Linked DNA regions of Homo sapiens. The protein of the gene in region 2 purifies or fractionates together with the protein of the main gene of each other region. This does not show direct contact. Each region holds a gene or a part of one and is shown on either strand. Other genes may lie near its edges. The genes, in order: UBAC2, GDE1, PROCR and PLSCR1.

Evidence for each region.
Region 1: the proteins of GDE1 (region 2) and UBAC2 purify together in Homo sapiens (affinity purification with mass spectrometry; one large-scale study listed by BioGRID and IntAct). This does not show direct contact.
Region 3: the proteins of GDE1 (region 2) and PROCR purify together in Homo sapiens (affinity purification with mass spectrometry, with the first as the bait; one large-scale study listed by BioGRID). This does not show direct contact.
Region 4: the proteins of GDE1 (region 2) and PLSCR1 purify together in Homo sapiens (affinity purification with mass spectrometry; 2 studies listed by BioGRID and IntAct, with this or other methods). This does not show direct contact.

The regions. Positions count from the first base shown.
Region 1 is NC_000013.11:99,338,379-99,346,341, reverse strand, and holds part of UBAC2 (ubiquitin-associated domain-containing protein 2 isoform 1 precursor), read right to left. Parts: intron 6,023-7,963; coding exon 5,777-6,022; intron 1-5,776. UniProt on the Homo sapiens protein: Restricts trafficking of FAF2 from the endoplasmic reticulum to lipid droplets.
Region 2 is NC_000016.10:19,512,968-19,520,930, forward strand, and holds part of GDE1 (glycerophosphodiester phosphodiesterase 1), read right to left. Parts: intron 4,223-7,963; coding exon 4,047-4,222; intron 1-4,046. UniProt on the Homo sapiens protein: Hydrolyzes the phosphodiester bond of glycerophosphodiesters such as glycerophosphoinositol (GroPIns) and glycerophosphoethanolamine (GroPEth), to yield a glycerol phosphate and an alcohol.
Region 3 is NC_000020.11:35,172,368-35,178,103, reverse strand, and holds the end of PROCR (endothelial protein C receptor precursor), read right to left. Parts: intron 3,403-5,736; coding exon 3,151-3,402; intron 1,937-3,150; coding exon 1,658-1,936; intron 1,407-1,657; coding exon 1,291-1,406; 3' UTR 742-1,290; downstream 1-741. UniProt on the Homo sapiens protein: Binds activated protein C. Enhances protein C activation by the thrombin-thrombomodulin complex; plays a role in the protein C pathway controlling blood coagulation.
Region 4 is NC_000003.12:146,518,925-146,526,887, reverse strand, and holds part of PLSCR1 (phospholipid scramblase 1), read left to right. Parts: intron 1-1,240; coding exon 1,241-1,283; intron 1,284-4,834; coding exon 4,835-5,055; intron 5,056-5,182; coding exon 5,183-5,344; intron 5,345-7,963. UniProt on the Homo sapiens protein: Catalyzes calcium-induced ATP-independent rapid bidirectional and non-specific movement of phospholipids (lipid scrambling or lipid flip-flop) between the inner and outer leaflet of the plasma membrane resulting in collapse of the phospholipid asymmetry which leads to phosphatidylserine externalization on the cell surface.

The DNA.
Region 1 (7,963 bases), on a different chromosome or scaffold from region 2:
GTGGAGGCTGTGGGGCAGGCTCAGGAGGGAGGCAGTCGGTGATGGAGATGGGAGGGAAGAAATCCAGGCAAATGGCGCCGGTGGCCTGAACTACAGCACTGGAGATGAATGACGGACTTACATCAAGGAGGGAGACTCTTTGGGGCTGAACTGGTGGGGAAGGCAGGAAGGACATGGATGTATAAGTGGGAAATGTCTGGGGTGAAACCCTAGGTTTGGACTTTCGGGTAAACAATGGGTGCTTTTCATCAGGTAGGGAGTGAGAAAGGGAAACAAATTTAGCAAAGAAACAGTACATGTCGGCTGTGTGCGGTGGCTCACGCCTGTAATCCCAGCACTTTGGGAGGCCAAGGCAAGTGGATCATGAGGTCAGGGGTTCAAGACCAGCCTGGCCAACATGGTGAAACCCCGTCTTTACTAAAAATACAAAAATTAGCCGGATGTGGTGGTGAGCGCCTGTAATCCCAGCTACTCGGGAGGCTGAGGCAGGAGAATTGCTTGAAGCCAGGAGACAGAGGTTGCAGTGAGCCAAGATCACGCCACTGCACTCCAGCCTGGGCAACAGAGCAAGACTCTGTCTCAAAAAAAAAAAAAAAAAAAGAAAGAAAAAAAGAAACAGTACCTGTCAAGAGCTGATGGGACAGTGAAGTGGAGATGTACTATAGGCAGTAGGATATTTCGGTCTGGAGCCCCAGGAGAGAGGGAGGTCCAGTCTCTAGATCTTGAGGGACTCATGGGAGCCATGAGCTCAATAAAGTGGTGAGGACAGGGGCTGGGTGGGTCCCCTTGGGTGTCTAACGTGAAAAGCTCAGTAGGCAGAGAACTGAGTCTTGGGAAACAACCTATTTAGGGAGTGAACAGAGGAAGGAGAGCTCGATCCAGAGTACAGCATCAGCCCAGCCAAGGCACTCCTCTGAGAGCCGGGCTTTAGAAACCTCCTTCTATTTGTCTCCTCCTCTGTGGTTTCTCCTTTCCCCCGTCCATCTTACACTGTGCAATAAAATGACATTTTTCTGAGATAACTGTCCTATCTTTGTTACTGAATAAACAATTTTTCACAGCCAATGTCCAAGCCGAAATCTATTGTCAGGCTTAAACTACCTCCCTCCATTATCAGTTACTATATCATTTCCCATTTCTCACTACATATCTGCCCACATGTCAATCACAGGGCTCCTGGAGGTCTCTCCTTTTTAAGGTCTCATTAGCACCTCCATGCCTCACTCTTGCTGGTCCTCTCCTCTGGAATGATGTGCCTTACCCTCTCCACCCATCCAAATTCCACCCGTCCTTCTACTTCCTGAAATCTTTTTTGGCAGCATCAGTCCACACCAGTGGCTCTCTCCTCAGATTTTCACTGCATGGGTGCTTCAGTAAATATTTCCTTGTTTCTTGGATGCTCATCTATTTCAACTACAACTGCCTGAGCTCCCTGAAGTTGGCCACAAACTCACGGAGGGAAAGGACATGTTCTTCATTTATTTTGTGCCCACAGCGAAGCCACCAGTATTGGTCAGAGAGCTTCCCAAGCAGTCTAACTGTCTAACTGTGCCCCCAGAGCCACACGAGGAGCACGTGGCAGGGGGTGGCAGCGAGCACCTGCCAGATGGCAGGATGAACTCTGGCATAAGCAGGCAAGAGAAATCTAAAGAAATACAACACTGAATCAAGACTTGAGTGTTATTTTGGAATACCTGAAATGAAAAACTGCAGACAGATCATGTGTAACATACAGCAGTTAGTAACTGAAAAAAAATGACTTTCTGACTAAATAAACTCAGATTCTATGAAAAGCATCTAAAAATCAAGTTTTTAAATAAATAACAGTTGTATTTTAAATGAAATACACAGCATGAGATTGCCTACAATAAAAGATACAGGAGCAAACAACAAAAACATGTATTTGAAACATAAAGAAGAAGATGGAAGCAAAAGTTCTAACTTAACCCTAATTAAACCTGAAGCCTGGCACTGAGTTTCCTGCCAGCCAAAGTGAAAAGGGGGAAAACAAATCACCAAGGAGCTCTCATATTGGGAGGTATATGAGTTAGGGATCAGAAACAGAGACCTCAGAGTCAGACACAGCTGGGTCTCACTCCCAGATCCCCATCAACAGCTGCATGCCCCTGGACAAGCAAGCACTCCCCTGAGCCTCCGGGGTCATGAGGGAATACCTGCATCTCTCTAGGCGTACACCGGGCATAAATGAGATAACATATACTGAGTACTTACTATAGGACTGGCAAAATAAATGGTGGTGGTCTTCTTACTGATAAAGAGTGAAACATGCTAATTCTGCAAGAGAGACAGGACCTAAGCTCCATAAGAAAAAGGACTGGGGGCTATCTTTTTTACACCTGTGTCCTCAATGTCCAGCTCTAGGCCTACCATATAATAAGCACTAAGTACTTATTTGTTGAAAAGTAAATGAAAATAAACTTTTCTCCTGGTATTACATTCCAATACAACTGCACCCTGTACGGTACTCGTGCATGCACACAAATACGGCAGATAATTTCCAGTGGTGGTTTAACAAAAGAGTTCTCTACGTGGTGATTTATCATACTTATGTGAAGAAAACTGAGACACAGCTGAGTGAAGAAGTTCAGCAGGAGGCTAAGTGCTCAGGTTTGGGTGTACCCATGTGCGGACCCTAGAAGAGAACTTAGGAAGCTTAGGAAAAAATCAAGAGTCTGGTCTGTGCTGCCCAGCAGACCACTCAACGTAAAAGCCCAGCAAGAGCCCAGGGGCTGGTGTCCTGCTCTGGACTTCAGATCTGTTAGTGAGACCATCCTATGAAAGTGGAGGAGTCTGACAGCAGTGTAGACAGCCATAAAGGCCTGTGCCACTTCACAGGCGCCTGGTGGGAATGCACGCTCCAGCAGGGCAGGGGTTTGGGTCTGTCTCATTCCCTGAGGCCTGGGTACAACCTGGCAGATCCCGTGATGTTCCAAGTATCTGGGGGGAAAGACACCGTGCGGAGTTTACAGCAAGGCAGGAAAGGAGAACCACAATGGGGGTCCGTAGAATCCTGGAGCGAGGGCGTGCGCAAACAGCCAAGAATCCCACTTGCATAAACTGCTGCTGCACCATGAAGTGCCTGTCTGTAGGCCACAAAGTGAGCATGTGGTCAGCAGTGGAGACCCACCAAGTTACCAAGCCAGGTGGGCCGACAGAAACCCATCATCAGATGGACACGGGCATCTGGGCTCAGCATAGGTGGGGCTGCAGGGCATGGGTGAGCTGCAGAAGCAGGCATGCCAGACCACCCTGGCAGCCACCTCTGCTGCACCACAGCCTCTTCCCAGCTAACACCGACTACCACAGCTGGTGGGCCCCTCATGACCAAGTGACAGAGGGGAAAACAGCCAAATGGACAGGCTGGCTCAGGACATGAGTGGCAGCTGAAAGAAACGGCTGCATGATGGCTCAATCTTGAAAGACAGCGATCAGGGGAACCCCCTATGGGCAGAGCCTGGGCAGCACATTTGGTCATCAACTCTGTGTGAAGAGAAGTGGCCTGAGGCAATTACACGTGTGGATCTGCTGGGCATGGCAGATCACCTGGTTGGTCGGTCAGGGGACTGGAAGGGAGGGAACAAGGAGGATCCAGCTAAAGGAACAGCATCAAGTGTCTTGCAGGTCGTGCCCACCACGGGCATCCACCACAGAAAAGGCACCAAATGGAAGGTGGACAGAATGACTGTGGCTCCATCACCAGATAACCCAGCGCTGGCACACGAATGGATGGCCATGGTGGTAGCACAGAGGAATGTGTGGGTCCCCCTCACCTAGGCCGACCTATCTCCTGCCACTATGGAGCATCCAACCTGGCATCCACAGAGACTGTGTGTGCCTGATAACTACCGTCTGCAAGCAGAACAGTCACTCAGCGCCGAGACTATGCTGGGCCCTTTCCACTCTGCAGTGTTATGGAACACACTGTCTCCCACCCCTTGCCCCTGCCCCAAATTCACACGCTGAAGCCCTAACCCTACGATGTGACTGTATTTAAAGGTAGGAACTTTAAGGAGGTAATTAAGGTTCAAAGAGGTCGTACGCATGGGACTTACCCAACAGGACTGGTCCCCATTTTGGGACAACTCAGAAGGGCTCTCCCAGCTTCACTGTGCTCCATAAGACCAGCGAGGCTTTTGCTGGAACTGCAGCTGCTCCCTCTGTCCCATCTTGCTGCCTTCGCCAGCCCGCCCCCATAGATACTGATGCTGACGGTGTTCTCTCATAAACTCTTTGTATAAAAATCTTCCTGGGGAGGCCAATCTGAGAAATGCAACTTCTCTGGTTTGCTTATGAGGACAAATTCAAAGCTCTCCAATGGAGAATCTCCTCCCAGGATTCCAAAGGTATCTCAGACAACATATTTCCCCCAAATCTGCTCTTTTGATATTGGTGAAATGGAACTATCAGTCATCTATCTAAGATTATCTAGGCCAGAAACATCAGAACCATCCCCTACTTCTTTCTCTCCCTCATAAGCTCTGTGCCTCTACCTTTATACTCAATCACTACTCAGTTTTTCTGACCTTGATCATTCTGATTTCTCATACCTTTCGCTCTTCTCTCAGTTTCCTTGAAGGATTTACCTCCTGCTAAATACGAGGCTTCATCTGTAGCCTGTGTTCATCTTGGATGTAGCTCTTCTCTTACAGAACTTACTACTTCTTTGCTTTCGGCTCTCAGCTCTCATCCCTACAGAGGTGACTCCATCACCTATATATATATGTAGCTTCCACATTTCCAAGACAGAGATGTCCATCCTCCAGCTTTAAATACACCATGGGCATCTTTATGGCATGTTCCAGAGTCACTCAAATTCAAGCACATCTTTAAGAAACAACTTTTGCTTCTCTATTTCTCTTGTAGACTCTGCCCCTAATAAGCTGCCCCCTTCCTCCCCCCCCCTGATATAAACTCTGGGACCTGCATCTCCAATGGGACTCTAAGGACCTCAAACCTGATTTCACTTCTCCAAACCATCGTGAGATCTGCAGACCTACTTCTTGCATCCAATGCTAGTGGAAGACAGAGAGATGGCAGAGGTAACTGTACGGTTTACAACTACCCCAGGGGTAAAGAAGGTGGAGGCGAAAAATGGGGAGCCCTGTGGGCTGGCTCACAGAAGTGTCCAAGAAAGATCAGGCCTGAGGTTTTAGCCTGATGTGCACTAACCCTCCTTCTCTCACTGCCCATGGAAGACAAATGTAGTATCAGATTGTTTGGATGCAGAATTTGTAGACAAATGTGCAATAATTTCTGATTATTGATAGCAAGGTTGAGAAAACACAGCATTTTTTTTTATCTACTCCTTGGTTGTTCCACTGAAAATCTTCTTGCCTTCATATTCTCTTCATTTCAACCAAGGAAAATCAAGAAATTTTACATTTGTTCTTCACTCCATAGCATATGATTAGCATTTTAACAGGAAGACACTGTGGCTTTTACAAGATTATAAAAACAGATAAATAGCACATCTTGTTAACTAGGTTGGTGTTTCTCTAAGAAGTCATGCTTATCTAATATAGGTGGAACAAGAATGTCCAGTTTGACCAATCTTTCAGCTGCAATTTATTTTTTACCTTTTTAAAAAACTAAGAATGGCCACTAACAGAGACCTACAATCTCTTTGGAAATGTCAAAATCCACTTGCAAGGCACTGGAATAAAATGTAGTCTCTATCTCACATGCAATCACAGAGGAAAGATTTGCTTGGGCCACTGAGAATTTCTAAATTTTTAGTGATTATTATCACTTTTACCTGCTGCTGTCTCTGTCGCCTCCCTTGTGCAAACTGAGAGAACATCAGCTGCCGGTCCAGCAGCTCCATTCTCTGCTGTCTCTGGATGTCCAGCGTGGCTCCCATCCCAATTCTGGCTTCGCTGGTGGGTTCTGAAGAAGAGAAGATGGGTTCAAGTGTCCAAGAAAAGAATTTTGCCATCCAGCTGGGGATGCAGAGCACCTGATGCACCTGGAACATTTTGCTGTCGTAGCACAGACCGGACATCTAGAAGAAAAACGTCCAATGTGATTGTTTAAATGTAGTATTATTTTAAAAAATGTACACGACTCAAAAATCAGCAGCCTCCAGACACTGCACACGGTATTTTTCTTAGTCATAGCAGTGTTAGGCAATAAGCAAAATCCTCTACCACACTGCAGAACACTAAGCAGTGCAAATCAACACAAAATTGAACTTAGTAAAACAAAATTGTTTTTTATTGAATTAGAAGAGCTAGCAAAATTCTAATCATTTAGTATTCAAAGTTCTGGTAAAAGATTGTCAAGACACTGTCTTCATTTTTTAAAAAGCCGTAAAAGATCTGATTATTGAAACACTTTCACACTGTACTGACTCTGCGGTTACCTTTGTTGGCAGATGGCCATCACAGAGACACCAGCAGAAAACAACTGCCATGTCTCAGCTGACCCAGTCACACGATCAATTTATCAGAGAATAAACACAATCTAAAATCTTGGTTTTTATTTACATAGTGTTTTAATCAGTTTTTCAACTACTGATTTTTCTAGACATTTAAAATCCTCACCAATATTAGTTCCATTTATAAACCAACCTTGTCTTCATCTTGAAGGTCATTTATAATGTATGGTTACAGAAGTCTCAAGGCTTCCTATGATTTTCTAGTTAAAAATGACTATGGCTATTCCTTTGTAAAAAAAAAAAAATCTTGATGTGAATTTGATTCTTAGGATTAGAAGATCAGATTAGAACATATTTGACAACTTTCTAATATGAGAAAAGTATACTTCAATGTTTAAAAATAAAATTTAAATTGATGAATTGGCAAGAATTCTTTGAGACTGTGCTACACACCAGGCACTGTTCTGGGAACTTAGAATACAGCAAAGAACAAGATAAGCAAGGCCCCACTCTCACAGGGCTTATAGCAGTCAATGTGGAGAACAGGCAGTAATCAAGTCAACACATAAAACTATTTCTGGCAAGTTCTGGGAAGGAAATAAAGTGACATGGGGCACGAACCTACTCTGGGGGCAGCGGGGGACATCAGGAGAGCCCTCAGAGAAAGTGATACTTGAGCGAAGATCTTAAGGATGATGCGGTGCCCGTGACTTGATGAACTGGGGAAATAACATTTTGGGCAGAGAAAGCAGCAGATGCTGCGCAGCCCGAGCTTGGGAGTGTCTATTAGATATCTTGGGGGGCTACTGAGTGGGCAGGTGGCTATGTAATTCTAGAACTCAAGGAAAAGGTCGAGATAAGGATTTCAGAGTCACTGGATATGATATGACATTTAGGGTAACAGGACTAGAGGAGATAAAATGGGGGGGAGGAGGAGACACAGCAGAAGAGAGAACAGGACTAAGGACTGAATCCAGGAGTGCACAAATATTCTATGGACAGACAGAGTAGGAAACGCCAGTAAGGAAATCTGAGACAGGGCTGCCAGTGAAGAGAAGGGAAATAGAGTTTAGTTATCACTGAAGCTAAGAAGTGTTTTAAAATAGGGATGGTCAGCTATATCTAATGCAGCTGATAAGTAAGACAGAACTAGCCACTGGATGTTGCAAATGGAGGTGTTTGATAAACAAGGTGTTTACAAGAACAGTTTTGGTACCAAAGACAGACTGTAGTAGGCTGAAGAGTGAATGGTGGACAACTTCTGGTTTCAAATAATTTCTGTGCCCCTTTACTCAAAAATAGTACAAGACAAAGAAAATGAAAACAGAAACAAACTCCAAGGTCCATGAAACCAGAAACTAATCCTGAACCATGCTAACAAAATAGAAAGCTTATCAAGTGATTATAAACCACTCTGCATATAAGCAGCATATAAGTCCAAATGCCTGCAGAGAGTCCTGTGGGACTCAGAAAAGCACAGGGACTAGAGCAAGCTTGTTCAACCTGAGGCCTGTGGGCCACATGTGGCCCAGGACAGCTTTCAATGTGGTCCAACACAAATTCATA
Region 2 (7,963 bases):
TCAGTATTTATACCAATACCATGCTGTTTTGGTTACTGTGGCTTTGTAGTATATCTTGAAATGAGGTAGTGTGATATGTCCAGCTTTGTCCTTTTTGTTCAGTATTGCTTTAGCTATTTGGGCTTCTTTACGGTTCCATATGAATTTTAGGATTGTTGCTTTTCTATTTCTCTGAAGAATGTCTTTGATATTTTGATAGGGATTGCACTGAATTGTAAATTATTTTGAGTAGAATGGTCACTTTAGGAATATTAATTCTTCTGATCCATGAGCATGGGATGTCTTTCCATTTGTGTCCTCTTAAGTTTTCTCATCAGTGTTTTGTAGTTTTCCTTGTAAGAGCTCTTTCACCTCTTTGGTTATATTTATTCCTAGGTATTTTGTTATTTTTTTTTTGGTAGCTATGTAAATGGGATTACTTTCTTGATTTCTTTTACAGCTAGTTCATTATTTACGTATAGACATGCTACTGATTTTTGTACGTTGATTTTATATCCTGCAATTTTACTAAATTTGTTTATCAGTTTTAACAGTTTTTTGGTGAAGTCTTTAGGTTTTTCTACATACAAAATCATGTTGTCAGCAAAGAGGTACAATCTGACTTCCTCTTTTTCCAATTTGGATGCCTTTTATTTCTTTCTCTTTCCTGATTGCTCTGGCTAGTCAATCATTCCATATTTAGCAAAATTGATATGAAGGTCGAAAGAATCATGGAGGAAGTAATTAACCATATTATCCAGAGTTTGCTGTACTTGGAACTGATAAAACTGAAAGTATCCAGTAAGTACAGACTAAATGTAATCATAAACTTCCCTTTTATTGCATAAGACTTTCAAACATGCTGTGGTTGCTTTTAAACACAAGTAGGTTGGGCTGTAATTGTGTAAGAAGCAACAAGTAAATGGTTTGCACAAGCACTTTTAGAAAGGTTAAGACAACTGGACCACATGGTGGTGCCCAAGACATTTTTAATTCATATCCTGGTGACAAGTGAGCATTGAAAACCCAAGACTCGTAGATGAGAAGAATTGAAGCACACAGACACCTGAGCACAGAGATTAGAGATTGATGGTCTTTGGTTTCTTATATTGTATAATGGATGTTATTTTTCTGTTTTTTGTTTTGTTTTGTTTTGATTTGTTTTCCTTTTCTGGTAATTCTGTGCTTCTGACACTAGCTATAAATTGGGGTTCCCACCTCCTCCTCCTTGGGTTCAATTAATTTGTTAGAGTGGCTTGCGGAACTCAAACACGTTTACAGGTTTATTATAAAGTATGTTACACAGCATACAGATGAAGACATGCATAGGGTGAGGTATGGGGAAAGGGGCATAGAGCTTCCATGCCCTTTCTGAGTGCTCCATCATTCAGGAACCTCCATGTGTTCAAATACAGATATTCTTGACCAAAGACCAGCAACAACAACAAAAATCATTTAATTTTTAAGAAATCACTGAATTTCTATTGAATTAATAACATTATTAATAACCCTACTTCCCAAAGGGCAGAGTATATGCCACCTTTGGAAAACTCAAAGACTTAATTTTCAGATTGTAATTTCCCTAATAGAATGCTATGCAGGAGGAATTCTTAGGAATACATAAATCTGTTAACTGTATTGTGTATTTATTTAAGTGCAACTGTTTAAAATAAATAATGTTCTAAGACATAATTTTCTGATAAAGAAAATGAAAACTAAGTGCTTGATACAAAAGAAATTAGCTTTTCTCTCATAATAAAATTATTATTTAACTTAATGCTAATTCAACTGCATTATTTCAACTGTAAGATCATGCTTTTAAAAAAGGGTAAGGATAGGCCAGGTACAGTGGGCTCATGCCTGTAAATTCAGCACTTTGGGAAGCTGAGGCAGGCAGATCACCTGAGGTCAGGAGTTCGAGACCAGCCTGGCCAACATGGCGAAACCCCGTTTCTACTAAAAATGCAAAAATTAGCTGGGTGTGGTGGCATGTGCCTGTAATCCCAGCATTCTGGAGGCTGAGGCAGGAGAATCACTTGAACCCGGGAGGTGGAGGTTGCAGTGAGCCAAGATCATGCCATTGCACTCCAAACTGGGCAACAAGAGTGAAACTCCAACTCAAAAAAAAAAAAAAAAAAGATAAGGATAATTTAAACATTACAGGCAATTATCCCAGCCATTCTAATCAATTTCTATTCCCTGAGAGTGAAAGATGGGAGACCTGAATTTGTTATTCCTTTGGCTGATCTTAGTTTCCTCCTTATCCTCCTCTCAGGACAAGCATCTCATCACACTGAGCATAATTCTAGAGAAAATATCTATTTTTTCCCACAACATAATCCGTAAACACAAGCCAATTACTTCATTTAGTTTTCAATCATAGAACACACTCTGTTCCAATAGTGGAGCAAAGACTGGTTGTGTTAAAGACACTGAGATAATATGTTGCCTTTGCTGTCTTCTTAAGGGATTTTTTGAAAATCACAATTTTTTTTCCTAGGATGCACAAATTCCAGAGAAATGGACTCAGTGCTCCCTTAAAGGATTTTTAAGGGTAATGATGACCCTAAACATTTTTGCTTTAAGTATTAACTTTGAACCTGACATTTTATTAGCTGCAATGTCATTATAATATTCAAACCAGCCTTTCCCTTGCATAAGCAGAGCAATACAGTATCTGATGACACTCAAGAACAATTCTAGCAACTTGGACTCATAATTCTCAAGTGTTACCAATATTCTTTCCTGCCTACAGTATGACTTCCTTCGGCAGACTAATGTTTTTCAGATCCTAGGAAAACAGGTCTGGATCATCTTTTAGGAAAAAGTATAACTTAACTGTTGGGTCAAATACTTAATTTTCCAAGAGAATCGATCATTGTCTGGATAATTGATATTACATGAATAACCAGTGAGCACACCCTTTTCAGTACTGCAAAGATGACAAGCAGAGAGGGATTTAAATAACCACATTCCAAAGTACAGTATATTACTCAGCATACCAATTCCAAGGGTGTTTACCGCTGTAAGTGGGGAAGAGGATGTAGGTTCTGTGATCATGTAAGTTTGAGAAAAGCTAAGTTACAAGTAAGAATCAGCTGATGTGGACTGTTTATCCACAACAGAAGTATTCAGAATACACTGTTTGATCTTACTTGAACCCTGTTTTTGCAGAACATCTTGTAAGATTAGCTCTAGTGTATATACTTTGGAAGCTACGTTTACACTCTACCAGGAAGGAATTAAATTAGACACTGAAAGAACTTTTGCTCTTACAGGGTTGAAAGACATTGGGGGCAGCTAAAAACAGCATGATTTGGACTAAAACTTGGGATAGATTCTAGTTTTGGCTTCTTTATGAACTAGTTATTTGCCCTTGAGTAAATAATTTAACTTTTCTGGGATTATATCTAAAGGCAAGATTGATCTAGATCTGTAGTATCCTATATGGTAGCCACACATGGCTATTTCAGTTTAAATTTACATTTAAATTAAAAATTCACTTCCTCGTGTCACTAGCCACATATCAAGTGCTCAATAGCCACAAGTACCTACCATATTACACAGTGCAGATATAAAATATTTCCATCATTGCAGAAAGTTCTACTGCAAAGTGCTATTCTAGATGATTTCTAGGATACTCTCTATTCCTACAATTCTGTGATTCCTCAGAAGTTTGTTATGAGGATCAGAAGAATTAAATGGGTTAAGTTAAAATGTGATATTATAATGTTACTTGAAGCTTTTAATGAATGTATAATTTGCTTCTTGGTACACCTGAAGGCAAGAAGATTGCCAAGCAATGACTTTCAGCCTCATGATTCTATGACTAGACAGTATTATCTTGACAATAATTCTGAAGCCAAATTTAGCCTCAGTGGGAAAGATTAAAAACATAATGCCAAATTTCTGTTGTTCCTGGCACTTGCTCATTACTTACAAGACCTACGTACAGTTCAAAACAAAACAAGACAACTCTCCTGGGGCAGATGTAATTAGAAGGCACCAGTGTCTGTCATTTCCAATAAAAGCTAAAAGATCTGTTTAAGTGACAATAAACTACTTACCTGAGTCTGTGGTTTGCTGCAGGATTCAGCTTCCTAATTTGTTCAAATGTCAAATCACACAATCGCCCAGTCCCATCAGTCGTCCTATCTACTGTGTTATCGTGCATTAAGACAGGAATCCCGTCAGAAGTAAACTCAATGTCCAACTCCACGCCTGTTGCTCCATTCTTAGCTGCCTTAACAAAAACATCAAGAATATTACTGTCAAATGGCCACAAACATTATTTTGCATCTAACCACCCAAAAGACCAGCAGGGCTCCTAAGACAGCTGTCCTTTTTGATTCATTTTCCTTCCACTTCCCCCACCAAACAGCAATCCTGATCTGTTTCTGTTTTCTGTGTATATAACCTTACTTCAATTCCTAACTGATGGATTCCTTAAAAACTTTAATTTTCCCACTCTTCTTACTTTCACAGTGGAAGACTAGGAGACTTCAGGAACTTATGTTTTCTCTGGATGTTTAACTATATGGGTCATCAATGGCTTATGAATACTTAGACAATTCCACTGTTTACCTACACTATTTGTTGGTACAGCAGTTCTGATGATCACCCTACGGTTGTTGATTAGTCAGATATTTCACTACTTTGGCATAAATGAGTCAGGTTTTTGTTGGTTTAATTCCACCCTCTACCACAAAGACACCACGCCTGCTTCTAGGACATATCACATTTTGTTTATGTAAGCAGCACTGGCTGTTGGCCCATAAGTTGTTAAGCTTGATGAGGTAGATTAGAATTTATCTAAAAAGAGAATTTGAACCTTAAATTACACGAGCCATGCTCCTCTGGAGACACACTATTTAATGTTTGCTTCCTTGGCTTCCTCATCACAATAAAGATGTGAAATGCTCATTACGATGAAGATTTCTTTCTTTTTTTTTTTTTTTGGAGACAGGATCTGGCTCTGTTGTTCAGGCTAGAGTGCAGTGGCATGATCTCGGCTCACTAAAACCTCCGCCTCCTGGGTTCAAGCCATCCTCCCACCTCAGTCTCCCAAGTAGCCGGGACTACTGGCACGTGCCACCATGCCCAGCTAATTTTTGTATTTTTTGTAGAGATGGGGTTTCACCATGTTGTCCAGGCTGGTCTCGAACTCCTGAGATCAAGCAATCCTCCTGCCTCAGTCTCCCAAAGTGCTGGGATTACAGGTGTGAGCCACTGTGCCCAGCTATGATCAAGATTTTTAATTTTTTAAAAAATATTTTAAGTCATGGTCTATTGCAAACATCTACAGTAAAAAAGATTTAACATATGTGAATATTTTGACCTAATTTCCTCAGTCTCTTTCTGTACTAAAACAAAAACAAAAACAAAAACTATTATTTATTGAGCCTTTTCTACTTGCCAGGCACTCTTCTAAGTGCTTTAAATGTATTAACTTATTTGATCCTCACAACCCTGAAGCAGGTACTATTAATATTCTCATTTAACAGATAAGAAAACTGAGACAAAGAAAGAGTAGGAAACTTGCCCAGGGCTGCACAAGCTAGGATGCAGTAGAAGTTGCACTCTTATCCGCTTCAGTTTTACTATCAACACTACAGATACAGCTGAAATTCTCCCTTTCATTCTCCTCCTTTCCTCTCCAGAGGTAATTACCATCTTAAAGTTGGTGTATATCATTCTCATGTCACTCCCTTACCGGTTTTTATTTAAGTACCCATAAACAACACAGAGCACTGTGCTAGTGAATAGTTAAGATTTCAATAAATGTTAGCCATTGTTATTTATTATGTCCTTTTAAACACATCTTTAAAGGTAATATAGTCAAATTTATCAATAACGTCCTTTATGGGTGGAGATTTTTCTGCTTTATTTAAATCTTTTCCTTTTCCCATGTGATACAGATGTACGACTATTTTGGAAAAACACATCACATTTTCCCTCTGCTCTCACAACAATCAACCCCGACGTCTGTGACCAAAAATGTGGGGGTTTTTCCCCACCAATAAGTAGTGGACACCAGCTGGGTATCCTCCAACTCAATTTTGACACTATCTACCTGGAGATAGTGTCAGATCATAGGTTGAGGGCTTGGTCCCCAAGACTGCACCCCACCCTCCTCCAGACACAAATAGCAAGCTGGGGCCTATGGAACTTCTGACCAATTGGCTTCAAGTCCTCTTAGGTTTATTTTAGTTTTTATTTTTTTAATTCCTCTTAGGTTTTTATGGAAGCTTCATGATGTCAGCATTCCTTCCCCCAGGGTATAGGGTGGGGTCCCTCTCTGAGGAGGGTCTTAAGACTCACAATTTGAAAGACAGGGAAAGATTCCAGTCCTGCCTTGGGGTAGGTGAAAGGAGGGCAGGAGAGATTCTGTTTCCCAAGGCCTGCTCCTAAGGCCTAGGATGCCTAACAAAATACTGTAGCAAGGGCTGAGAGTTATGAGCCAGGAACCATGGATGAAAACCTATATATGTGTGTGTATGTGCATATATATATATATATATATATATACATACACAATACTTAATAGATTACAATATAGTGTAAACATAACTTTTATATGCACTGGGAAACCAAAAAATTTGTGACTCCCTTTATTACTATATTTGCTTTATTGACTATTTACTCAGGTCTGGAACTGAACTTGCAATATCTCCTATATATACTAATATGTGAATTAGAACCAGGGATTCATCTTTTTATCTCAATTACTGGAATAACATAGAAGTACTGGTAAAGCTGGCCAGGCAGTGGCTCATGCCTGTGATCCCAGCACTTTGCCTGTAATCCCAGCACTCTGTAATCCACTGAGGCAGGTGGATCACTTGAGGTCAGGAGTTTGAGACCAGCCTTGCCAACATGGCAAAACACCATCTCTACTAAAAACAAAAAACAAAAATTAGCTGGGAGTGGAGGAGTACATCTGTAATCTTAGCTACTTGGGAGCCTGAGGCACAAGAATCGCTTCAACCTGGGAGGTGGAAGTTGCAGTGAGTTGAGATCGCCCCACTGCACTCAAACCTGGGTGACAGAGAGAGACCCTGTCTCAAAAATAAATAAATAAATAAAATTATTGGTAAAGTCGAATGTATACATACATATATACATTTCTGACAGTGCTAGAATTTCTGGTAGATTATAAATGAGATATAGAAGGAAAAACTTGATAAATGTGAGTTGAGTGTATTCCAAAAACAGATACACTACTATAAACAGTGGCAAAGGAATGAAATTACACCCACAGTACATTCTCCACATGGGCCAGAGTGCAGCTTTAAAAGTATAAATCTTGGCCGGGCACGGTGGCTCATGCCTGTAATCGCAGCTACTCGGGAGGTTGAGGCAGTAGAATCACTTGAACCTGGGATACAGAGGTTGCAGTGAGCTGGGGTTGCGCCGATGCACTGTAGCCTGGGAGACAGTGAGACTTCGTTTAAAAAAAAAGAAAAAAAAAAAGAAAAAAAAAGGAAATGAGGGAGGCCAGGCATGATGGCTCATGCCTGTAATCCTAGTACCTTGGGAGGCCGAGGCGGGTGGATCACTTTGAGGCCAGGAGTTTGAGACCAGTCTGGCCAACATAGCAGAACCCCATCTCTACTAAAAATACAAAAATTAGCTGGGCGTGGTGGCACACGCCTGTAATCCCAGCTACTCCGGAGGCTGAGGCACGAGAATCGCTTGAACACGGGAGGCAGGGGTTGCAGTGCGTGGAGATTGCACCACTGCCCTCCAGCCTGGGTAAAAGAGTGAGACTCTGTAAAGTAAAAAAAAAAAAAAGAAGAAGAAGGAAGGAAGAAGAGAGAGAAAAATAAAAAAGAAGAGAATCAGATATATTTACACAGATGCAAAAGTGCCTAATCCACTGAAAAGCCCTCTCTGTAAGCTGTCATTATTATGAAGCTAGGAGAATGCCAAGAGCTGGGAGGTATCAAAAGTTTCAGGAGTGCCTTGTGAAAAGGAGGGGGCA
Region 3 (5,736 bases), on a different chromosome or scaffold from region 2:
AAAGATAAAATTATATTGCTTCTCCATGGAAACCACAGGTAGATAGTATTTGCAGCCATGAAGGTCAGTAGGTCACCTAGAAAGGGTATAGTTCAAACAGGAACAAAAGGAACCAAAAAATGGAATTCTAAGGAAGCCAGCATTTCCAGGGTGAATCGTGTAAGATGACATAGTCAAAGGGATTGAAAAAAAGTAGACAGAACAGTTTTAAAAATTGAAGTATGGTATCTCAGAAGTTAAGGCAAAAAGAGAGTTCTAGTCCGCAAATTTGCAGATACCATGTAGGGTGATGGTTTGACAATTAGAGGTTACTGGTGATCTCAGAGTAGTTTATAGAGAAGTCAGATTGCACTGGGTCTAAGAATGAGTGAGAAGACCAGGCGCAGTGGCTCACGTCTAATCCCAGCACTTGGGGAGGCCGAGGTAGGCGGATCACGAGGTCAGGATGGCCAACGTGGTGAAACCCCATCTCTACTAAAAATACAAAAATTAGCTGGGTGTGGTGGCATGCATCTGTAATCCCAGCTGCTTGGGAGGCTGAGGCAGGAGAATTGCTTGAACCGGGAGGCAGAGGTTGCAGTGAGCTGAGATCACACCATTGCACTCCAGCCTAGGCAACAGAGCAAGACTCTGTCTCAAAAAAAAAAAAAAAAAAAAAAAGAATGAGTGAGAAATAAGGAAGCAGAAGAAATGGGTATAGGTTACTTTTCCAGAAATTTTGCAAAGTGGAGGAGATAACAATGCCTTAAATATAAGAAATTTATTAATATTATTAATTGATTAATAATTGATCACTGCCATATGACTTGGATTTTACATTTCCACCACTTCTTCGTGTTACTTCTTTCTACCCTATTATATCAGCGTCCCATCCCAAGTCTGACACACCTGGAAGTATTGAATGTTGTATTTTGATTGTGGATGACTTGTTTATTTGGTTATATCTTTTGAACGCCTCAGGTGATTCTGTCTGTCTTTGGAGGATGGGCCATAGGCTTCCTGCCCCAACTCCATTATCTGTTTTCCACAAAGATAGATAAACATTCACTTATCAGACTAATTCAGCAAAGCATACACGTTCTTAGGTTCTTAGCAAACCAAGTACTTTGTCCACCTCTCCTCTCCATCTCCCCTCCCTCAAATCTTCAGTGGGCAGATGTGGGAGAAGAAAGGAGCTGTCACTCCAAACCTTCTGGTGTTTCAGTTGGGGAGTCTGGCTTCACAGTGAGCTGAAACTTTCCCTTGCCAGCCTCCATCAATCCAGCCCCTTCTGAGGGGGCTGGAGAGTAATTAACATCGCCGTCCACCTGTGCACAGGAAGATGCCTACAGCCACACCAGCAATGATGAAACTGCCCACCAGGACGCCCAGGACCAGCGAAGTGTAGGAGCGGCTTGTTTGGCTCCCTGCAGAACATGCAAAGAGTTAGCCCGAAGAATAGGCCCCCAAGGAGTCCATGATTTGAGTCAAACCCCAAAGCGTTTCTGCCCCAGAGGAAAGGGACCCGTTTACCAACTGACTGAAGCTGCGTGTGTTCTGTCCCAAACCCCCAGCTGTGGGCCTCTTGTTGCTCTAGGCATCCATCCTTCAGGTCCATCCATTTGTCTGGAACCCGCCCTCTCCCCAGCTTGCAGGCCTGGGCCCCGTCCCATCATACCTTTCGTGTTTTCCGCGGAAATATGTTTCTGCACATACTGCACACAGGTGTCCTCCAGGAATTCCCGCAGTTCATACCGAGTGCGGTTGTAGGCATTGAGCTGCTGCAGGGTGAAGGTGACCACTCCGGAGGTGACCTGGGTGTCTGCCTGCCACAAGGCTCTCTCCGGCCGGAAACTCACAAAGGAGCTCCCATTCACAGCCACTTCGAAGAAGACATGGGCTCTAGAGCCCTCGGGAGGCAGCTCACAGCCCAGGAAGCAGCGGATGGTCAGAGGAACTGTGGATAGACAGTCAGGGTCAGGGGACTGTGCAGAGAGGGTGCCAGGTGTGGGGCGAGGCCCACCAAGGGGAAAAGAACATGAGAAGGCAAGAGTCAGTGCTGTGAGGAGAGGGGAGTCTAGGTCAGGGAACTATGGGGAGAAGGGCCTGGGGCTGTGAGGAGGGGTTTGGGGTTAGCCTGTTAGAGGCTAAGAAAGAAGGGGCCAGGGACTGTGATGAAAAAAGGGAATTGTCAGGCCTTGTTCAACTGTAATAGAAAAAAAAAACAGGGGGTGAGGCTGGGGCAGGGGCGGCAGCTCACGCCTGTAATCCCAGCACTTTGGGAGGCCAGGCTTGTGGATCGCCTGAGGTCAGGAGTTCGAGACCAGCCTGGCCAACATGGCGAAACCCCGTCTCTACTAAAAATACAAAAAATTAGCCGGGCGTGGTGGCGGGTGCCTGTAGTCCCAGCTGCTTGGGAGGCTGAGGCAGGAGAATCGCTTGAACCCGGGAGGCGGAAGTTGCAGTGAGCCGAGATCGCGCCACTGCACTCCAGCCTGGACGACAGAGCAAGACTCCGTCTCAAAAAAAAAAAAAAAAAAAAAAAAGGGGGGTGGGGTGGGGGACTAGGAGAGAAAGGAGTTAAAGGCCATGATGGTGGGGGAAGGGGGACGGAGTGGTGCTTGGTGCTTTGAGAAAAGAAATTGGGGTCTTTGAGAAGAAGGAGTTAGGGTTGTGACGGGGAAGGAGTGGGGCTTTGAGAGAAGAACTTGGGGTCTTTGGGGGAAGAGTTCGGGTCATGAGTGGAGCTAAGAGCGAAGTCATCAGCTTGTATGAGAAGTGGCTGGAGGGTGGGGGGTGAAGTGCTGGGGGCTGTGGGAAGGGAAGGACGGAGATCTATGAAGAAAAGGAGTTGGAGGACTGTGAGGCGAGGGGTGAGGAGTTTTCTGGGGACCTTCGACGTCACGGTGTCAGGGCCTTCCAACAGGGTCTATCCCAAGAGGTTATGCCAGCAGGACGACCGCCCGAGTCGGGGCTTTCTTAGCGGGGACAACTGCCTCTCTCCAGCCCCCACCCAGCAATCTTCAAAGGCCCAGGCGCCACCGAGCTCCAGTGGCTGCCGGGTCCCTGCAAGTCCCAGCCCGCCTCCATCCGCCAGGCCCCGCCCCCACCCGCCAGGCCCCGCCCCCACTAGCCCCGCCCAGACCCCGCCCCCGCTGCGCGCCTACTCACAGGCCAAGGTCCGCTCCTGGTGCACCAGGCGCACGAGGCCGTGGAACTGGAGCAGGTAGGACTGCAGGCCACTCTGCGTGCGCGCCCAGCTCTCGGGCTCCTGCAAGGGCTGCAGCTGAATGATCGTGGTGTTGGTGTCTGGGCCTTCCAGCACGTGCGTTAGGTGTCCCCCCAGCGACGCGTTGCCCTGGTACCACACGTGATAGGGGTCGCGGAAGTAGGAGATCTGGAGCATATGAAGTCTTTGGAGGCCTGCGGGCAGAGTCAGCTTCAGCCTGGGCCGGCGTGGGAGGGGGCGGCGGGCAGCGGAAGATAATAACCCCCTACCTCGAGGCTGGCCGCCCGCCTTCTCGACCCTTCATAAACTATAATGTGCCCTCCCACCGCTTCTCCCGTTTGACGCTGACAGTAACTCTGCCAGGAGGACAGGACAGGGATTATTATCTCCGTTTTACAGATGAGGAAACTGAGGCCTGCAGTGGAAGAGACACTCCTTTCTGCCTCCTTTTTCACCCTCGGCTCTCCCTCCCCCCGTTTCCTGTTAACCAACGGAACAAATGGTTAACAAATCCTGACCTGAATAAAATTCCAATTCCATCGCCTGTTCTCCATCTCCTCTTCCACTGCCCTGATTCAGGATTCATCCGTCTCATCTAGACTGGGGTAGTAACTTTCTACTTCATCTCCCCGTTCTCTATTCCGACCTCCACCTGACCCAGGGATGAGATCATGTCCTTTTCCTACTTAAAATCTTCCAGTGCCATAACCCCCTCCCCTTCATTAATCAAAAATAATCATAGCCAATGTCGATTCAGTGCTTATTATAACCTGGGCAATGGGCTTTACATACATTATTATCTTTGTGCCTTTCCCCAGTGGCTTAATGCAATAGCTACTATTATTAACCCCAGTCTACATGGGAAACTGAGACAGAGATAGTGTAGCAGAGCCAAGGTTTGCACGTAGGCAGTCAAGTCCAGCACTCAGCCATTCTGCTACACTGCCTCCCCACAGGATCAAGTCCAGAGTCTTTAGCCTGGCATTCAAGGCTGCTAGAGACCTGGCCCCTGCTGCCTTTTCTGGCCGCTTCCCGCTGCTTATATATCAAACTAGTTGGGATTCCTCATGCTGCCTTTGGCTGACACATGAATAGCATGTCAGGATTGCTCTGCCTCCCTTTTTCTGCCTGGCGAAGTTTATTCATGATTTAAGACCCAGCTCAGAGACTGGGCGCGGTGGCTCATGCCTGTAATCCCAGTACTTTGGGAGGCCGAGGCGGGCGGATCACTTGAGGTCAGGGATTCAAGACCAGCCTGGCCAACATGGCGAAACCCCATCTGTACTAAAAATACAAATATTAGCCAGGCGTGGTGGTACATGCCTGTAGTCCCAGCTACTCAGGAGGCTGAGGCAGGAGAATCGCCTGAACCTGGGAGTTGGAGGTTACAGTTAGCTGAAATTGTGCCACTGCATTCCAGCCTGGGTGACAGCACAAGACTCCATCTCAAAAAAAAAAAAAAAAAAAAAAAAGAAAAAAGAAAGAAAAGCAAAGAAAAAAAGACCCAGCTCAGTTGCCCTCTTCTTGGAAATTTTTTTCTGATGCCCCACGAGACACAGTGTGTCTGTTTCAGTGATCCCAGACCACCATATATTAGTGTGTATCTCACGGGATACTACCTGGCTGTCTCCAAACACACACAGGCCACACTGGACTCCTCTAGGCTATGGAACCATGCTTGGTAATCTCTGCTTCCTACACCCAGAAAAGAGGCTGGCACAGAGTTGATGCCCAGAGCACATTTGGATGAGTCCGGGGTTGTAAATCTGTGTGTGTGAGTGGGTCCTGTCTGTGTTTGCATTTGAGAAGTTGTGCTTTGTATCTGCAGATGTGAATAAGTATATTTATGGATAACCCTAGACATGGTCCTTAACTACTCTGTGACCCAGTTTCCTCCTCATAAAATGGAGATAGTAATAATATTACCCACCTTTAGGGGTTTGTGCAAGTTAAATGGGTCAATACATGTATTAACCATAGTGAGCACTCATTGAATACTGGTTATTATTTGCTGCCTCTCTGAGGGGGAGACTGAAGTTACGGGGATTGTGAGAGAGGGGAAAGGAGGCCCCTGTGCAATTATAATGGAGGGTAATAACTCCCTTTTCTGCTTAAACAGGGCCACTTCAGTAGCCTGATCGCCCATAAGTTCTATTAGGCACAGCATCTCTTTCTCCCCAGTTCCACCAGCTGCGACCAGTCTCCTTCCATTTTCCCTAGCCTCCCCTAACCTCTCTCTGCCCCACTCTTCCCCCACTTCTTCCATCAGTTTTCCCAGGGTCTTCCCATTCCCTCCATTTCTCTTCTCTTCTGAGCCTCTTCCCGTCTCCCCTAGATGTACCCCTATCTACCATCACCCTCAGTTCCCCTTTCTCCCCTCTCCCTGGGGCTGATTCTCCTACCCTCTCTGCTGGTTTCTTTCTCATGTTTCCAGTCATCCTGTTTCCCCTAGCCTCTTTCATCTCCCCCTTTTCAGGGGCTTAAATGTACTAACTCACCTTGGCTTTGGGACACGAACCAGTCCCCAA
Region 4 (7,963 bases), on a different chromosome or scaffold from region 2:
TTACAGTCGTGAACCACTGCGCCTGGCCTCTACTCTCTACTTCTAAGAAATCAATTTTTTTAAGCTTCCATGTATGAGTGAGAACATTCAGTATTTTTCTTTCTGTGCCTGGCTTATTTCACTTAACATAATGTCCCTTAGGCTCATCCATGTTGCTGCCAATGACAGGATTTCATTCATTTTTATGGCTGATTTTTATTCCATTGTGTGTATTAAGAATGAATTTTTCTTTATTCATTTATCTATTGATGAATACTTAGGTTGATTCTATATATTGACTGTTAGTGCTGCAATAAGCATGAGATTGCAGATACCTCTGACATATTGATTTCCTTTCCTTTAAAATTTTTGTTTTGAAAATTTTGAAAAAATACTGTTTCAAAAAAAACAGTAGTGGGATTGCTGAATCATATGGTGGCTGTAATTTTAATTTTTGAGGAACCGCTACACTGTTCTCCATAATGGCTGCTCTAATTTACTTTCCCACCAACAGATTTCCCCTTCTCCACATTTTTACCATTATTTGTTATTTTTTGTCTTTTTGATAAAAATTCTTAACTGTACAAAGATAATATCTCATTGTGGTTTGGATTTCATTTCCCTGGTGATTAGTGATGTTGAGCATTTTTTCATAAACTTACTGGCCATTTTGTATCAATTTTCTTTTCTTTTTTTTTTCTTTCTTTTTTTTTTTTTTTTTTTTTGAGATGGAGTCTCACGCTTGTTGCCCAGGCTGGAGTGCAGTAGCGCGATCTCGGCTCACTGCAACATCTGCCGCCTGGGTTCAGGCGATTCTCCTGCCTGAGCCTCCCAAGTAGCTGGGACTACAGGCACCTGCCACCACACCCAGCTCATTTTTTGTATTTTTAGTAGAGACAGGGTTTCACCATGTCAGCCAGGATGGTCTCGATCTCCTGACCTCGTGATCTGCCCACTTTGGCCTCCCAAAGTGCTGGGATTACAGGCATGAGCCACCTCAATTGTCTAATTTTTAAAGGTACTCCAGTATAAATCAATTTTATTTGACCTAAATTTTTCCACATTAATAATGAACACAATAAATATTTTATTAATTAAAAATATTAACTTCAGTTTTACACTAAAAAGTAATATAAGCTGTTAAATATTGATAATTGGTTACATGTACTTTAAAAATATAAATACATGAATTTTAATTTGGTTAGCTTATAAAAACCTTCATTTGACATATACATACCACTTATTTTTTTTCCTGCTATAGATAGATCAGATACTGATTCATCAGCAAATTGAACTTCTGGAAGGTATGTATTCATTGTTTTAATCCTGTTTCTATAAAGAGTAGAAGTTTATGCAGATAAAGGCACATTGACCTCCACAAATATAACACTCTCACTTATATAGGACAGTTAAACCAGTTATTTACAATAATAAATGTTATCAGCAATTCATTTCTAAAATTTAGGAATCAAAAGGTAAAATGCTGTTATGTTGGGCACCTGCCCTCGGGATATTGACACTAACTTAGAAGGAAAATAATCAAAACCCTTATTTTGCTCCTCTCTTCATACATCACTTTTTTTCTGACTTCTACCACTTAAGCTATTTTCTCCGTAATTGTGATCAGCTTAAGAATGGCACAGAGCCACATTCCAAAGTAAGTTATCTTTTTTATTTGGATGAGGAAGTTTGGGAAAATTATCATTTGTGCCCACAGTTTCTCTTGGGAGTTAAGATGAACCCTATAAAACCTTTGTATACGAGGTCAGATGCAGGCCACTGCAGTGTGGGAGGATGCTGACCAACTAGCCTGCAGGCTTGGCTTCATAGAAGAGCACTCCTGCTCCTGCTGAATGGCCTGACATTTCCTTGGGTCCAGGGCTCCTTAGGTGCAAAAATAAACCTAGGAAGCCAATTAATGTTTTATAATGGCTGCCAGGGGAAGAAGACCCTGGATAGATTTATGAACCATAGTGTTTTCCTTCTAGATAAAAAAGGTTTAATAAAAAATAAAACTCTCCAGTTTTTAGGAATATGTCTGCTAAATTCATTTTCACCTGTCTCCAAAGTTTCTTTCCACTGGTAAAAATTAGAAGATGAATTGTATAAGCAGAATAATGGATTTGGCTAAAATATACAATTGTCATCTATTACATTGAAGTTATTTGTAAAGCACATTATTATTTATAAGTTACTTGATTTTTTTTTTAGTGTATCTAAACAAAGCTTTCTCTGGAAGACAGCTTTGTATTCTGAATTTTTTAATGTTTTATAGTATATATTAGTAAGGCTATAAAATCCAAACAGACATATAACCAAACATTACACAGCACACTATTTATCTTTTTTTGTAGATTTATAGGCTTTATAAATATTTGTTAAATATGTGTTAATTATGAAATAGAAAGTTCCAAATCTAACAGTTTTTAATTATGCTTATTTTTCAAAAAAGAAATGTCTCCAGTTTTTTTTTTGTTTCTTTTTCTCCAAAATTGAAAGTCTATGTTATTTTTTCATGAGTGGTATAAAAAAGATGAAGATTACTCAGGTTTTTAGAATCTGAGCATAAACTAGGCACTTACTTTTTTTTCTCAATTCAAAACACAGAAGACAATAAAAATATAAACAATTTGTTTACATTTTTAAAGTAAATGAAAAGAAACTTAAAGGTTATGTAAACCAATGTTGTTTTACAAATAAGCTGGAGATTTTTGAGATTAAGCTACTTAATGTAACAATTAATTAGATAATGAATGTCCTCTCAAAATCAGCTTAACTTTTTTCTCATCAAACATTTGACTATTTCAGATGTTGAAATCAGACGTTGTTCCTATAAATGCAGAGTACAGGGTCTGTCTGTGTCCCACCAAGGACACTTAAAGGAGTTCATGGTGGTAAGACTTGTGAAGGCCGTCTTTATCCGACTCAGAGTCTTTCCACATAGGCATTATAGAGTGACTTTTCCTCCATATATTTATTTTAATCACTCATTATTTTAGCCAGGCTTCTGACATCTATGACCCCAGTTACTGAGGACTATGTACAAATGGGACAGTTATTGCTCCTTTCTGGCTTTAAATATGGAGAGGTTTCCAATGTATGGTTAGATATGGAAAGCCCTTGATACAAAGTATGTGAGTGTCAGCATTTTGCAGCCATCTGTTTCCCTCATGAAGATAGATTAGCCCAGCAAAGGTGCAGAGTTCACTTAGGATTCCCACGGTCTAGATATTCTGTGAGTTGAAGCCTTGGTTGCCGAACACGTTTGTCTAATACCCACCTCCCACTTCTGAACAACTACTGTTGAGTTGAATAAGGATGCCCTGGGTCCAATGTGACATTCTAATTCATCTTTCATTTTTACTCCCTCGGTTTTTATGCGTGTACATTGCCTTCTTTCAAAAGCATTGCAAAAAAATAAGACATAAGTAAGGTTTATAAGACAGTCTCAAACCAATTGATTTAATATAAAATTTCATAGCACATAAACAGCAATCCTCTTATATTCCCCTCCACATTACACATAAACTATCCTGCATTAGTGGACATTTTATCTATACACCTAGCACCACCGTGCCCACCCACAGCATTGCCCCAACTCTCAGCAGAAAAGTCTCTCTTCTGACAGACATTTATGGAATTAGGAAAATATAACTTGTTTCCAGTGTCTCACATAATGAAGGGATGGGTTGCCCCTCCACACTTGTGGGTGTTTCTTGTTAGGCGGAACGAGAGACTTGGAAAAGAAAAGACACAGAGACAAAGTATAGAGAAAGAAAAATGGGCCCAGGGGACTGGCATTCAGCATACGGAGGACCCGCGCCAGCACCGGCCTCTGAGTTCCCTTAGTATTTATTGATCATTATCGGGCGTTTCCCGGAGAGGGGGATGTGGCAGGACAATAGGATAATAGTGGGGAGAAGGTCAGCATGTAAACACGTGAACAAATGTCTCTGCATCATAAAAAGGTAAAGAAAAAGGTGCTGTGCTTTTGATGTGCATATACATAAACATCTCAATGCCTTAAAGAGCAGTATTGCTGCCAGCACGTCCCACCTCCAGCCCTAAGGCAGTTTTCCCCTATCTCAGTAGATGGAATATACAATTGGGCTTTACACCTAGACGTTCCATTGCCCAGGGACGAGCAGGAGACAGATACCTTCCTCTTATCTCAACTGCAAAGACGCGTTCCTTCCTCTTTTACTAATCCCCCTCAGTGCAGACCCTTTACGGGTGTCGGACTGGTGGACGGTCAGGTCTTTCCCTTCCCAGGAGGCCATATTTCAGACTATCACATGGGGAGAAACCTTGGACAATACCTGGCTTTCCTAGGCAGAGGTCCCTGTGGCCTTCCACAGTGTTTTGTGTCCCTGGGTACTTGAGATTAGGGAGTGGTGATGACTCTTAACAAGCATGCTGCCTTCAAGCATTTGTTTAACAAAGCACATCCTGCACAGCCCTTAATCCATTTAACCCTAAATTGACACAGCACATGTTTCAGGGAGCACAGGGTGGGGGGTAGGGTTACAGATTAACAGCATCTCAAGGCAGAAAAATTTTTCTTAGTACAGAACAAAATGGAGTCTCTTATGTCTACTTCTTTCTACACAGACATGGTAACAATCTGATCTCTCTTTTCCCCACGGCATAAGGACTTAATTTCTCTATACATTGGTAATCTCTCCTTTTTTTTGCCATTTTTCTCTGTCTGGATCATCTCTAAACATCATTTCTTCTCCTCCTTATGCCACTTGGGGTATCATCAAAAACTGGCATAGCTAGATATTATAATATCTGGATAAATTCAATATTTTTAACATAGAGGTGATTATGATTTCGTCTTTTATGTTTTTAGTTTTAACAGGTTTTGAAACTAATAACAAATATGAAATTAAGAACAGCTTTGGACAGAGGGTTTACTTTGCAGCGGAAGATACTGATTGCTGTACCCGAAATTGCTGTGGGCCATCTAGACCTTTTACCTTGAGGATTATTGATAATATGGGTCAAGAAGTCATAACTCTGGAGAGACCACTAAGATGTAGCAGCTGTTGTTGTCCCTGCTGCCTTCAGGAGGTCTGTGATCAATTACCAGGGCACTTTGTAAAATAGTTCAGCAAGAATTTCTGCCCTGTCATTGAACCTTTCATCGAACCTAGGCATTATGATTATTACATTTACATATATTATTTTGCCTTTGTAGATAGAAATCCAAGCTCCTCCTGGTGTACCAATAGGTTATGTTATTCAGACTTGGCACCCATGTCTACCAAAGTTTACAATTCAAAATGAGAAAAGAGAGGATGTACTAAAAATAAGTGGTCCATGTGTTGTGTGCAGCTGTTGTGGAGATGTTGATTTTGAGGTAAGAGATGTCATAATGTTTATAAGATTTGCTTTCCTAATATAAGAAGAATGTAATTTTGCAGGACATTATAAATGCATTAAATAAGTGTTGTGTGCCAATGTCTCAATAGCAAGATGATTTTCTCATTTATTTAACTTTGGGCAGAGTGGTAGTTATCACTCTGATTAAAGGTCACTGTTGGTCATGAGAAATGGAAAAAAAAGAAGCAGACCTATGTAGTCAAATAAAAATAAGCAAATCATCCCTCACTTAAACGTGGTGGTTTCTATGTGATGACACTGTATATTATCCATTTTAAACAGAACGTTAACCTTGCCATCTAAGTCTGATTGCCAAAGCATATGGATCCTTCTTAAATCTGAAATATCATCTGCCAATGCTCAAGGCCATGTTCAGAATGTCTGACATCTTTGAATTCCTACAAGAAGCCCAATTATGCAAAGATAGTTTTGAGAAAATTAGTATAATATGTACTACCCAGTTATGCTTCTCTGTGGTCTCTCCTTTTCCCTATATTAAATTAGGTCACTAGAAGCTGCAACATATTAATATTTGTATATTTACTGTAATACATTGTAGAATTTCATTAGAGTAGCTCTTCAACAACAGATGGTCTACTTTTACAATCCAAATTTTTTCATTGCAAATGTTTAAAAATCAGAAGGTTTTATAACTTAATCTTGATTTCTTGTTTCTCTTGGAAAATCAGAAAATTGGGTTAACTGGGCCCACCTTTCCAACAAAAGGGTAAAAATCTACTAAAGATGTGTGGGGCTGCCCCTTGTAATAATGACATGGGAACTCTACCACTGTCTCCACCCCTTACTGAGGTTTTTCAATATCCAGTGTCATTCATTTATGTGATCTGCCTGCCTTCTTTAATCACATGGTATTTTATTCCTCCGTCAGACTTTAGCTATATAAAGATGAATCCTTTCCCCCATTGACTTCATAATCTAATGACAGAGATTTGCAGTTCTAAGGAGGATGTGATATAGAAACTTTAAAAAGGCTCTTATAAGGGGATTATATAATGTGTGTATGTATATGTGTGCATAATATGCATGTATAAAAATTTTATGTAAGGGTATGCATAATAGCAGTTCTTCATGTAAGGGATGGAATCTCTGTCCTACATCCAGAGAAGTGAAAAGTAATTTCTCATTCAAGGAACAATATTAACAGAAGTTTGGCTGGCATATATTTTATTTTTAGTAAATAAATGAAAACACTGGAAAAACATTGTGTAATCCTTGTATTTGATACTAAAAAATTTATGTTTCATCTGGCAGTCTTTCTTGATGGATACCTTAAAGCATCCATTCCATGTAATAAATTAACTTTTCTTCTATTTATCTAGAATGATGATATCAAGGTACTCTCATGGAAAGAATTGAGAAATAGTCACTTGAAGAATTTTCCATAGAGTTGACAATGGAAACTTTGACACCTCAAAGCAGAAATTATCAGTATGAGGGACCACTAAGGAACATGAAATCCACCAGGGTGTCACTGGGCATGGAAACTTGAAGTAATAAAAGAGATAAAAGCCTGTTCCACAGCAGGGGCAGGAGTCATTCTAAAACAGAGAATAACTCAAGAGGCATTTCATAGGTGTACTATGTGGAACTAATTCATGGATTTGATATCAATTGAGGATGAAAAAAATTTTGGAGATAAACTTGATGTGTTATTATTCTGATATTACATTGGCCAAGTTAAGAATCTTGGAGGAAAAACACTTGATTTGTGTCCTCTTGACCATTATGATAGTCTGCTTTTTAAAAAGTAAGGTATCAAATACTAATACACATCTAGGTCAGGGATCAGCAAAATATAATCAATGAGCTGTAGTTGATTATATAAAATATATATGGGAAGTTAATGACTTGAATTAAGGTCATGTTGGATTTTAGTTATGTATAGGAAAAGAATGGAGAGTTTTCAGCAAACAGACAGTAATTGAATCTCTAAGAAGGTTATCTTAATGGTGAGTAAGAGAGAGCCTAGTAGACCTTTTATCCAATATAGGTGATAAGAGAGTCTGTCTCCTTCAAGGACTCTTGGTAGGGGGAAAAAATATGGCCACATGAAACTGACATACCAAGTCAGCTCTGTCTATGAGCTTGAAATCTGAATTCCTGCCACTGTTGTGTTTCAGGAATCTCAAAATATAGAAACTGATCCTGAGTAGTGATAAATTTTATATGGTCAACTATAGCCCACAGATTTTTTTTCCTGCCCTCTCAACTAGATTTTCATTAGTATTCAATAAATATGTTTTTAAAAAGCAGACAATCCTAATGGTCAAGAGTATAGACACTGGAGCCAGATGCCCAGGTTTGAAACCCATCTTCACAACACTTATCTATGTGACTTTAACAAATTCTTTCACTTCTCTTTGCTTTAGTTTTTTTACATGAAAATTGGGTGTAATAACAGTAAATAAATAAATCATTAGTAAGTAAATAAAATAGCTTACCAGCAACTATTAATATACTCATGATACACTTTTTATATTTCTTTGCTACATACCTAGATCCTATATGCTGTCATTATATTTCAGTATTTTGCATTTATATTTGCATTGTGAGATGAATCTATGGTTTTCTTTTT